3 linked regions of the Homo sapiens genome follow. The protein of the gene in region 3 purifies or fractionates together with the protein of the main gene of each other region. This does not show direct contact. Each region holds a gene or a part of one and is shown on either strand. Other genes may lie near its edges. The genes, in order: EPB41, ANKRD26 and WDR3.

Region 1 (3,657 bases), about 89 Mb from region 3:
GGGCGACAGAGCGAGACTCTGTCTCGAAAAAAAAAAAAAAAAATCAGCTTCACATCTTTAACCTTATAGTATAAAAGCTCCACAAAAAGTAGTCAAGCATTGCTTAGAGAAATTCCATGTGGAAAAAAAAATTAGCAAAAACAAAAAAATAAAAATTCCGTCCGGGCACAGTGGTTCATGCCTGTAATCCCAGCACATTGGGAGGCCAAGGCAAGTGGATCACCTGAGGTCAGGAGTTTGAGACCACCCTGACCAACATAGTGAAAGCGTGTCTCTATTAAAAATACAAAAAATTAGCTGGGCATGATGGCGGGTGCCTGTAATCCCAGCTACTTAGGAGGCTGAGGCAGGAGAATCACTTGAACCCGGGAGGCGGAGGTTGCAGTGAGCCGAGATCGCGCCACGGCACTCCAGCCTGGGCAACAAGAGCGAAACTCCGTCTCAAAAAAAAAAAAAAAAAAAAAATCACACGTGGAGGTAAGTGAGGGTAACTCCCCTTAATCGGACTGACTTTAGCTACAATTAATGCAATCCCAGAGTCCCTGGTAAATACAGGTTCCCATTCCTTACTCCTCTCTTCCTTCTACCATACACAGACAGGTGCTTTGGAAATGTTGAGGCATACTTTTCAACCCAAAGGGAGAGAAATGGATTCATTTTGTCTTGCTTAAGATGATCTCACCTGAGCTAAATAAAAGAGTGCCAGTCATACAATGAAAGGAATTTTAATAGCAGGCTTAAAATAGAAACGTTATAAATAATTTATCCTTGAAAAATACTTAAGTGAGAATAATACCTGAAAAACGTGTGATGTTCTACACAGACTTTCCATAATTTCTTAGCTGCTCGGTAACTGGGAAGTTTGAATCCGATGGTACTTTCATACTGCTCTTGCTACAAAAACACAAATAAACATGGGACATGAAGTATTACATGTGATACAGTACCAGATTACAGTGATACAGTACCAGAGAAATATGGTGCCACAGAAGAGGCCATTGTTACCAATTTAAGGACATAAAATGTCATTTGGAATTTTTTCCTACTTACTGAAAGAAATTCACTCACTGAGGGTGGCTTTTTCCAAAGCAAGAAAGCCAGGGAATGCATCTCATATAATTTAAGCTTTTTTTTTTTTTTCCAGAAAACACACACACATTCATTATACATTTTTCTGAGACACAATTAAGTCACCTCTTGATTGTCCAGACACTGCTTTTCCTTAGTCACTATCTGCATTTGGGACACTGTTCAATGAACAGGGAATGGGATATTGACCAAGTCCTCCAATCAATCAATATTATTATGCAATAGAAATTAGTAATAGGAGCTAAAGATTTTAGTTCAAGCCAGATTTTTAAATCAATTTTTTAAATTGACAAATAAAAATTGTACATACTTATCATCTACAACATGTTGTTTTGAAATATGTATACCTGCCAGGCACGGTGGCTTACGCCTGTAATCCCAGCACTTTGGGAGGCCGAGGTGGGCAGATCACAAGGTCAGGAGTTCAAGACCAGCCTGACCAACATGGTGAAACCTCATTTCTACTAAAAATACAAAAAAAATTAGCCGGGCATGGTGGCACGCGCCTGTAATTCCAGCTACTCAGGAGGCTGAGGTAGGAGAATCACTTGAACCTGAGAGGTAGAGGTTGCGGTGAGCTGAGATGGCGCCACTGCACTCCAGCCTGGGTGACAAAGCGAGACTTCTTCTTCCAAAAAAAAAAAAAAAAAAAAAAAACAACAAACAAACAAACCCAAGAAACACGTATACATTGTGAAATGGCTAAATTGAGCTGATTAACATATGTATTACCTGACACACTTATTATTTTTTTGTGGTGAGAAAACTTAAAATCTAGTCTCTTAGCAATTTTTCAAGAGAACAATACATTGTTATTAATGATAGTCACCATGTTGTACAATAGATCTCTTGAACTTATTCCTCAGATTCTTGAATCATTAAATATTTCTTTTTTCCTTTGATTGATCATTAATTTATCTAGATTCCTCTTATACTGAAGCAAAACATATTCTCCCAGGGTTACTAGAAACACTGTCCTGCTGACCTCTTGCCTCTTTATTTCTACTTTAAGCATATTTTATAAGATGGAAAGGAAACTGACATTTATTTTGAGTGCCTACTATTGCCAGTAACACTATGATTAGATAATATCATCTATATTTTTAGACATGAAGAAACTGAGGTCAGAGAAGTTATTTGCTCAGACTGACAGCTATGAAATGACAGAACCAGATTTTTACCCTCTTCACCATACCATGCCACTGCTAAATCATCTACTGCTGCCACAATACTTTTTCTCAAAATCCTGTTGTTCCTGATTGCCTTCTAAATAAGAATTCTACATTTTTAGAAGCTAAGGATTTCCCATTTTCATATTAACGTGTGTGAGGGATGAGATTCTAATTTGCTGTTATATTCCTAGTCCCTAGAATAGTGTCCAACACAGGAAAGCTCTCAATAAATATTTGTTGATTGAATAACTCTTGAATTTGAAATTTTAAGGGAAGACACTGACTGCTCTGTGCTAGGCATAGGTAAAATAATTATGGTACAAAATAAATGCTTCTATGGTAATCCCTATCCAAGATTTTTAAGGCTCCACATCCAGAATTTGCAGGCACAAATAATTAGCCATTATTCACCAGCAGATGGTGATATATACACACAAAAGCCACCTTAGGTTAGTATCATTTCCTATATAGAACTTACACAGCTGTCATCTCATTTGATCTTCAAATAACTATGATGGAGAAGGTATTATCCTGCCCAAATGACAAGGAAGCTGAGCCTTAGATTTGTCCAGGTCTTTTGCTTAGTATGTGGCAGAAAAGAAGTCAGAACTTTTTAAAAAACTTTAATTCCTACTTAAACAATTTTATGCTATTCCATAATGGCTCTTCAATACAAAAGTTAAATTTGGCCAGCATTAGTATATCCCCAAACCAACTAATAAATGAATTAACTGGTACAAAGTTGAACATCCAACTCTTATTAAAAATCTAGAACTTGGCCCTAGAACTCACTCTCAGTAACCACGAGAAGCTATGCATACAAATAAATTTTAATTATATGAGATAAAGGATTGGTGATGCCAAACATGAGTAATTTATCCCTATAAATAATTTTAAAATCTCATGCTACTCAATTTAAAAATATTTTTCCATTAAGTTTTTGCTTGGCGTAAACAAGGAACAAATGTATCAGTCCAAGTTTAACTTTTTGCAATGGTATATTTACTTACAAAAAGTGAAATGTCCAGAAGACCAGTAGTAAGGAAAAGAAGTAGCATCACAGGACTGATCAACTTAGAAAACGGAATTATCAGCCCTTCAATAGTTAACTATAGAGAGACTTCTCAGATGACTTAATAAGGAAAATGGAAATGTAGATATTTCAGATACAGACTGTGTCTGGTTTGGGAGGAAGGAAATATAAATTCTGTACCTCTCCAGGCCGAATCTTGATGAAAAAGCTACTACGTTTATAAGAAATCTTCAGCACTTTGGGCCAAGGGAAGCGGTTAATTCTCAGCTTATCTTTGTAAACCAGAAGGCCACTAGAGCAGACACCTAGGATGATATCTACTCCTTCCAAGTCCTGAAAAAGAAAAATGTTAGGATTTCAGTC
Region 2 (3,657 bases), on a different chromosome or scaffold from region 3:
GATGCCATTAAAAATACTTGTCTTTAAAGGGTAAATATGTGACATGATAAATATGTTAATTTGCTTGACTATAATAACCATTTCACCATGTACAAATATATCAAAAACATCATGTTTTGATACATACAATTAATAAAACTAATAACAAAGGAAAAAGCCCAGCTAAAAATACTTGTATTTAGTAAACCAGTTTAGAGATTAAAAAATTCCTCAAGACATGTGCAAGCATTTGCTTTCACCACCCTTTTACATTTATTTCACCCATTATCTGGAAAAATATTAGGCATCTGGCCCCAAGGAATAATTCAGAGCAAAAAATTGTAGGGGAAAAGAAGATAGCTGAGTTGGTGATCAAAAAGAACTAAAGAGTCTCAAAGGCAGTTAGCTCCTAACATTGTCCCCAAGGCATCAGAGGTGGGGCCTGACCTGTTTTCCACACACTCCCTCAGGCTGACCAAGGTGTTATTTTTAACCACTTTATAAAATATACTTCCCTTCATCCCTACGTTAATCATTCCCTATTTCACTAGCATGCCTTTAAGTAGTAGAAAAACTATACAGGGTAGTTTGTCTCATGGCACCCTGTAGTGATAATACCAGATATCACAATCAAGGAAAGTTCATTTATGGAGTGCCAGAATGTGCAGAGTAGTAGTGATACTTGACCCTTCTGGTTTAAGTTGTAATTTTCCAAAAAACAGCCCAACTCATTAATAATTATATTTATGGCAATGCTGATAAGCAATCTGATGACAATATCAATGTCTAAATTACAAAGTTTTAAAAGCACATAGCTGAAAGACATAGATCCAGTTAACTACCTAAGAATATTAACGGAAAAGCCATATAAAATTAAAAAAAAAAAAACAGAGGAAAGACATAAACTGTCCTGGACTCACATTTTAAAGGTAAGTTAATTTACTAACATTTTCCAAAATTATATTACCTATTTAGCTTTCACTTCCCATTAATCTCATGAACCTAAGAATTATGCTTTCAAGGCAAATTAATGAGCTTAATTTATTTCCTATGATTCTATATTTTGACTTACTTGGTTAGTTTACTTGACAAAGATTTTCTAACTTTTAATTCTTCTAGATAGAGTTGCTTATATTTTTCCAGTTCGGTTTTATTAAAGTCTTCTTGAGAAGTTTTTATTTTGGAGAGTTCAGATTCCAGATCTTTAATTCTGAGTTCCATCTGACTTTTCATTGAAGCAAAATTATTCTCTCTAAACTGCTCTAAGTTTTCTTGAGATGCTGCTTGTGCCTAAAACAAATTAAAAGCATATGTTTTAAAAATATATAACCTGAGTAAGACCATGGTCACCTACTCGGTGTCTAAGGGCTGTTTTGTTTTTAACCCAAACTCCAAAAAGAGAAAGATCTCTGTGCCAGCAGGCATTGGTCAAAGAGATAAGAGGACATCCCAGGGTTCTAATTGAAAAGGGAATCCAAATACTTCCAAAGAAATGAAAGTGAGTTTCTACTAGAGAAGCATTTTCATCCTTGATGAAGTAATCAAAACAATAAAGGCTGACTGGCAACCCAGATGTCTAACGATGGGGGGAAATGTCATATAGAAAATAAAAAATTATAATTGGTAACATAAGGAAAACCTAAGAAAGAAAATGACTACAAATGTGGAGATATTTTCGAATGAAAAATCTTATAAAAATTATTTTTGTGTTAAAATATATTCATGGGGAAGACTTGAATATGCTTAAAAATTTTGATGTGATATTCCATTTTATGAATACACCTGGCAAAGTAAATTAAAGCAATCATCTGTATGTAAGATACAGGAACTTAGAGCTTCTTAGGGATAAATGCTGTGCGCATCAATACATGCTGAGAAAAAAGCCCAAGGTGTTGGATCTCTTACAGTAATTCTACCTGCTGGAGCATAAGGTTATGGAATCACCTGGACTACAAGTAAAGGAATGTGGAGTGTGATCCTGAGCCTGACTAGCTCTATGGCTTGGGCCCTGCTGTTTAACCTTTCCCTAGGTCTCTTCATCTGTAAAATGGGAAACTACACTGGCTTATCACTAAGATTTCTTCCTATTCTCATTCCATGTCTCTAAGAGCTAACATGCAGAGCTTTGTAAGACTATCATAAATACCATGTGAAGAAATCTGTGTTATCATGGATTGTTACCACCTTGGCCTTGTAGATTGTGTTCCAAGACTCCTATCTCTCACTAGCCTGAGGGAAGGGAAAGAGCTGAGAATGAGGAGTGAAGACTTTCTACTCTCACAACGGCTACATATTTTCAAGTGGCCCAGTTGAAATTTCTCTGTTAATTTTCACATCCTTTCCACCAGTTTGCACCCTCCATCCTCTCTCATAAGCACAGGGGTCCCACGCAGTTCTCAATCGCTCTTTATCCCAACTAAAACAAATTTGTTAAATTATTGAGTTTTAATCACTCATAGACACACAAACTCATGTTATTAAGTAGATTTTTATCACTCACTCAGACACACACACACTCACACACTCATATACCCATGTGGGTAAGAGAGGAAAGACATTCCTTTGGCTTTGTTTATTTTAGAGACAGGGTCTCAGTCTGTCGCCCATGCTTCAGTTCAGTGGCACAATCATAGCTCACCGCAGCCTTGAAAACTCCTGGGCTTACATGATCCTCTCACCTCAGCCTCCCAAGTACCTGGGACTACAGCCATGCACCACCATGCCTGGCTAATTACTTTTTTAAATTTTTGTAGAGATGGGGTCTCACTTTGTTGCCTAGGTTGGTCTTGAACTCCTGGGCTCAAGTGGTCCTCCCGCCTCAGCCCTCAAAGTGCTAGGATTACAGGTGTGAGCTACCATGCCCAGCCTAATTTGTTTGTTTTGTTTTGTATTTGAGACGGAGTCTAGCTCTCACCATCTTGCCTCACTGCAACCTCCGCCTCCCAGATTCAAGCAGTTCTCCTGCCTCAGTCTCCCGAGTAACTGGGACTACAGGCATGTGCCACCACGCCTGGCTGATTATTTTTTTAAATTTTTTAGTAGATATGGGTTTTCACTATGTTGGCCAGGCTGGTCTGGAACTCCTGACCTCGTGATCCGTCCACCTCGGCTTCCCAAAGTGCTGGGATTACAGGCATGAGCCACCGTGCCCAGCTTTGTTTTTTTTTTTTTAAGGCAAAAACAACACAAGTTGTGTTAAAGTCCCAGTGGTTTCCTGGGATGAAGTAGGGGGAATTAACTGCAAAAGGGCAAGAGAGAACTTTCTGGAAATGTTCTCTGTTGAGAGGGTGGTTAAGCAAGTATATACTTGGGTCAAACTGTTAAAATGGTTGTGTTTAATTATTTGTAAATTATCCCTTAATAAAATTTAATTTATATAAAACCTGGGTAATTATTGTGTATTTTTTTCCTTTACTTTTGAGTTAGTGATTCAGAGAGTAATTTTAAATATGTGAAAAAAAAGCTGAAGTTTAAAATATTTATCAGCCAGGTTTGGTGGCTCATGCCTGTAATCTCAGCACTTTGGGAGACCTAAGCAGGAGGATCACTTGAAGCCAAGAGTTCGAGACCAGCCTGGGCAACAAAGCAAGACTCTGTTTCTACCAAAAATAAGAATTAAAAATTTAGCCAGGCATCGTGATGTGCACCTGTAGTCCCAGCTATCCAAAGGCTGAGGTA
Region 3 (3,309 bases):
CTGTTTTAACAAGCAGCAATTATGATAAACGACCAAAAGACTTTCCCCAGGGAAAAGAAAATCCAATGGTCCAGAGAACTTCTACAATTTATTCCTCCACACTTGGAGTCTTCATGTCTCGTAAAGTTTCTCCACATTAGGTACAGTAAGTAATAAATGGGAATTTGATTGTCAAGCATTCAAATTTGAGGTATTAGACCCCAGGTTTCTTCCCCTCTTCTTATAGTCAGAAACCTATAAGCCACCTGGCCTGAATGAATGAAAATATTTGTTTAGGCCGGGCCCGGTGGCTCACACCTGTAATCCCAGCACTTTGGGAGGCCGAGGTGGGTGGATCACAAGGTCAGGAGATCGAGACCATCCTGGCTAACTTGGTGAAACCCCGTCTCTACTAAACAATAGAAAAAATCAGCCAAGTGTGGTGGCGGGTGCCTGTAGTCCCAGCTACTCTGGAGGCTGAGGCAGGAGAATGGCGTGAACCCAGGAAGCGGAGCTTGCAGTGAGCCAAGATCGTGCCACTGCACTCCAGCCTGGGAGACAGAGCGAGACTCTGTCTCAAAAAAAAAAAAAAAGAAAATATTTGTTTAAATAACTATACTAGTTGCTTCTTTATATATATTATAAAATGTAATGCTCATGCAAGGTAGAATTCAGTGCTTTATACCCTAATCTTGGAAGACACATCCCATTATATTTACTGTATTCTGTTCACTAGAAGCCAGTCACTAGGTCCGACCCCATACTCAAGGGGAAGGGATACACAAGGGCAACACTGCCAGGCCCTATGTAAGAGTTGGGCTCAGTGACTGTTACACAATGTGTACTGTGTTCTAAAAACATACCAGGGCTGCTTGGATCCCAAAAACCTCAGAAATAAAGAGAAAGGACTTGAATATATGGTGATACTACCTTTAAGAACCTTAGCCCCATCTCAAACTTAGGAGCTTAAATTGTGAGGAATGGGGGTGGATTGCAGACAGTAACTGTAAGCCAATGTGGTTTCTTCATTAAGCTTCTGCTCACAACCTCCCTCTCTTTCTGAAGACTAATCTGGCCTGAAAAGGCTGCATTGAGCAGGCTCATCATTTACAGCTAAGTGAATAGAGTCCTATATACAGTCCTGTACCTACCAACAGATACCATTGCTTTCCTGGGCACTGTCCTAGATCTCTGCTGGAGATTTGCTAGATATCTTTAGAATGAGATATAATTTATGACATTTGCCATTGAGAAACAATTTAATACCAAATATACAAAGCACCTAGCTTCCAGCCAGTGAATTTCAAAATTTTTAAGCATATTTTCTCTAAGTGGATGGATATATACATTTTTAAAAATAAGCCTAAATGTTTTACTCCCAATACATCATTCAAGAGCCTTTTTTTTTTTTTTCAATGGAGTCTGGCTCTGTTGCCCAGACTGGAGTGCAGTGGCACAATCTCAGCTCACTGCAATCTCAAAAGGCTTTTCTTTATGGTACTACAGAATTTCTATAGGTAACTTACTTCACAATATGCAAGAGATATTAGTCATTAGATGGTTTTTATATTAAGGATTATATACAGCCAATGGCTGACTAAGGCAATGAATACTGACTTAATGACTAGAAATTTGCCTGGCTTAAAATTTACTTTATAATGCACCTATTGACCTTAAACTTTTAGAGTTAAAGAGTTTCAAGTATTTTGACCAAAAATTGTAACTTGGCTAGGTTCTGTACATGTCACTTTATCATAAAAGTTCTCCTTCTCTTCGATTAGTATAACACTTAGCAGACAGAAACATCTTTACATTCCCTAGCACTATCAGGCTTTTGAGTTATAAATGGTGGCAAAGCTACGGGAAAACAGCAACTTTTAACATAAGAGTAATTATTGATGATGTATACATCTCGAATGCCCTCCTGGAACTTGTTTTGGTTTGGAAACCATCAAAAATGTTACTAGAAAGTGACATTTATGTTCTGATGAGCAACTCTAAGAAGGATATTGAATCAACTTCTGTTCTCATAAAAAATTAAATTTTTTTTCAAGAATTAACTCCTCTCCCTGGTGGCAGGAATAGCTGCCTAAACAACACTGACTCCTTGGAAAGCACCTAGAATGCATTATCCTGCCTGCCTATTCTCTTGCCTTCATAGTTATGCCTTCAGAAACTCTATGCCAAAATTCACTTATTTATTCTGCCCAACAAATAACACCACTGCATCCCTTACTCACTTCAGTGATTGTGTTATGCTCAAGAACATTAAGACTTGTGGTTTGGGACACAAATCGGCAAGCCACAAGGACTGCATATCTGAGCCTAGAAGAAAATGGTGGCCCCACAACACAGTAACTTGGTTGCAATGACCAAATTCAGACAGAAACCATAGTTTTAAATCTTTGGGATTAACAACAACAAAAAAGATAAAAAGCAAAACTGTCTCAAGAAGATACAGAACATCTAAACAGGCCTGTAACAAGAAGTATGATTTAGTCATTTATAAACTTCCCCAAAAGAAAAGCCCAGACCCAGAGGTATCTGTCAATATCTTTTCCTAGAACATTCCCCAAATCCTTACCATGAAGATATACAGTAGACAATCCGTTGAACATGGGTTTTAACCACTTGGCTCCACTGTTATACAGATTTTTTTTTACTATTATTATTTTGGAGATGGAGTCTCACTGTGTTGCCCAGGCTGGAATGCTGGTGGCACTGTCTTGGCTAACTGCAATCTCCGCCTGCCGGGTTCAAGTGATTCTCCTGTCTCAGCCTCCTGAGTAGCTGGGATTACAAGCGCCTGCCACCACGCCCAGCTAGTTTTTTGTATTTTTAGTAGAGATGAGGTTTCACCATGTTGGCCAGGCTGGTCTGGAACTCCTGACCTTGTGATCCGCCTGCCTCGGCCTCCCACAGTGGTGGGATTACAGGCGTGAGCCACTGCACGCAGCCCAGATATTTTCAATAAATATATTGGAAAAATTTTTGGAGATCTGAAACAATGAGAAAAGTTTCAGATGAAAAAAATTAGGAAAAAAGTAGTTATATCATGAATGCACAAAATATATGTAGATACTAGACTATTTTATCATTTACTGCCATAAAATACACGCAAATCTATTATCAACATTAACACACACAAATACAGATCATACATGGTGCAATTCACAGTTTTGGGAGAAATGTAAAATAATGTAAAGATGCAGTATTAAATCATAGCTGCATAAAATGAACTGTAATACACAGTATGTTACTGAAATAATTTCACAGCCACCTCCTGTTGCTATGCAGTGAGCTCAAGTGTTGTGCGTATGCACTTAAAAT

The links.
Region 1: the proteins of WDR3 (region 3) and EPB41 purify together in Homo sapiens (affinity purification with mass spectrometry; one large-scale study listed by BioGRID and IntAct). This does not show direct contact.
Region 2: the proteins of WDR3 (region 3) and ANKRD26 purify together in Homo sapiens (affinity purification with mass spectrometry; one large-scale study listed by BioGRID and IntAct). This does not show direct contact.

The regions. Positions count from the first base shown.
Region 1 is NC_000001.11:29,033,063-29,036,719, reverse strand, and holds part of EPB41 (protein 4.1), read right to left. Parts: intron 3,628-3,657; coding exon 3,475-3,627; intron 895-3,474; coding exon 797-894; intron 1-796. UniProt on the Homo sapiens protein: Protein 4.1 is a major structural element of the erythrocyte membrane skeleton. It plays a key role in regulating membrane physical properties of mechanical stability and deformability by stabilizing spectrin-actin interaction. Recruits DLG1 to membranes.
Region 2 is NC_000010.11:27,013,443-27,017,099, forward strand, and holds part of ANKRD26 (ankyrin repeat domain-containing protein 26), read right to left. Parts: intron 1,270-3,657; coding exon 1,052-1,269; intron 1-1,051. UniProt on the Homo sapiens protein: Acts as a regulator of adipogenesis. Involved in the regulation of the feeding behavior.
Region 3 is NC_000001.11:117,960,630-117,963,938, reverse strand, and holds part of WDR3 (WD repeat-containing protein 3), read right to left. Parts: 3' UTR 141-3,309; coding exon of another isoform or gene 1-140. Other genes in the region: SPAG17 (sperm-associated antigen 17), read left to right, coding at 1-140. UniProt on the Homo sapiens protein: Part of the small subunit (SSU) processome, first precursor of the small eukaryotic ribosomal subunit.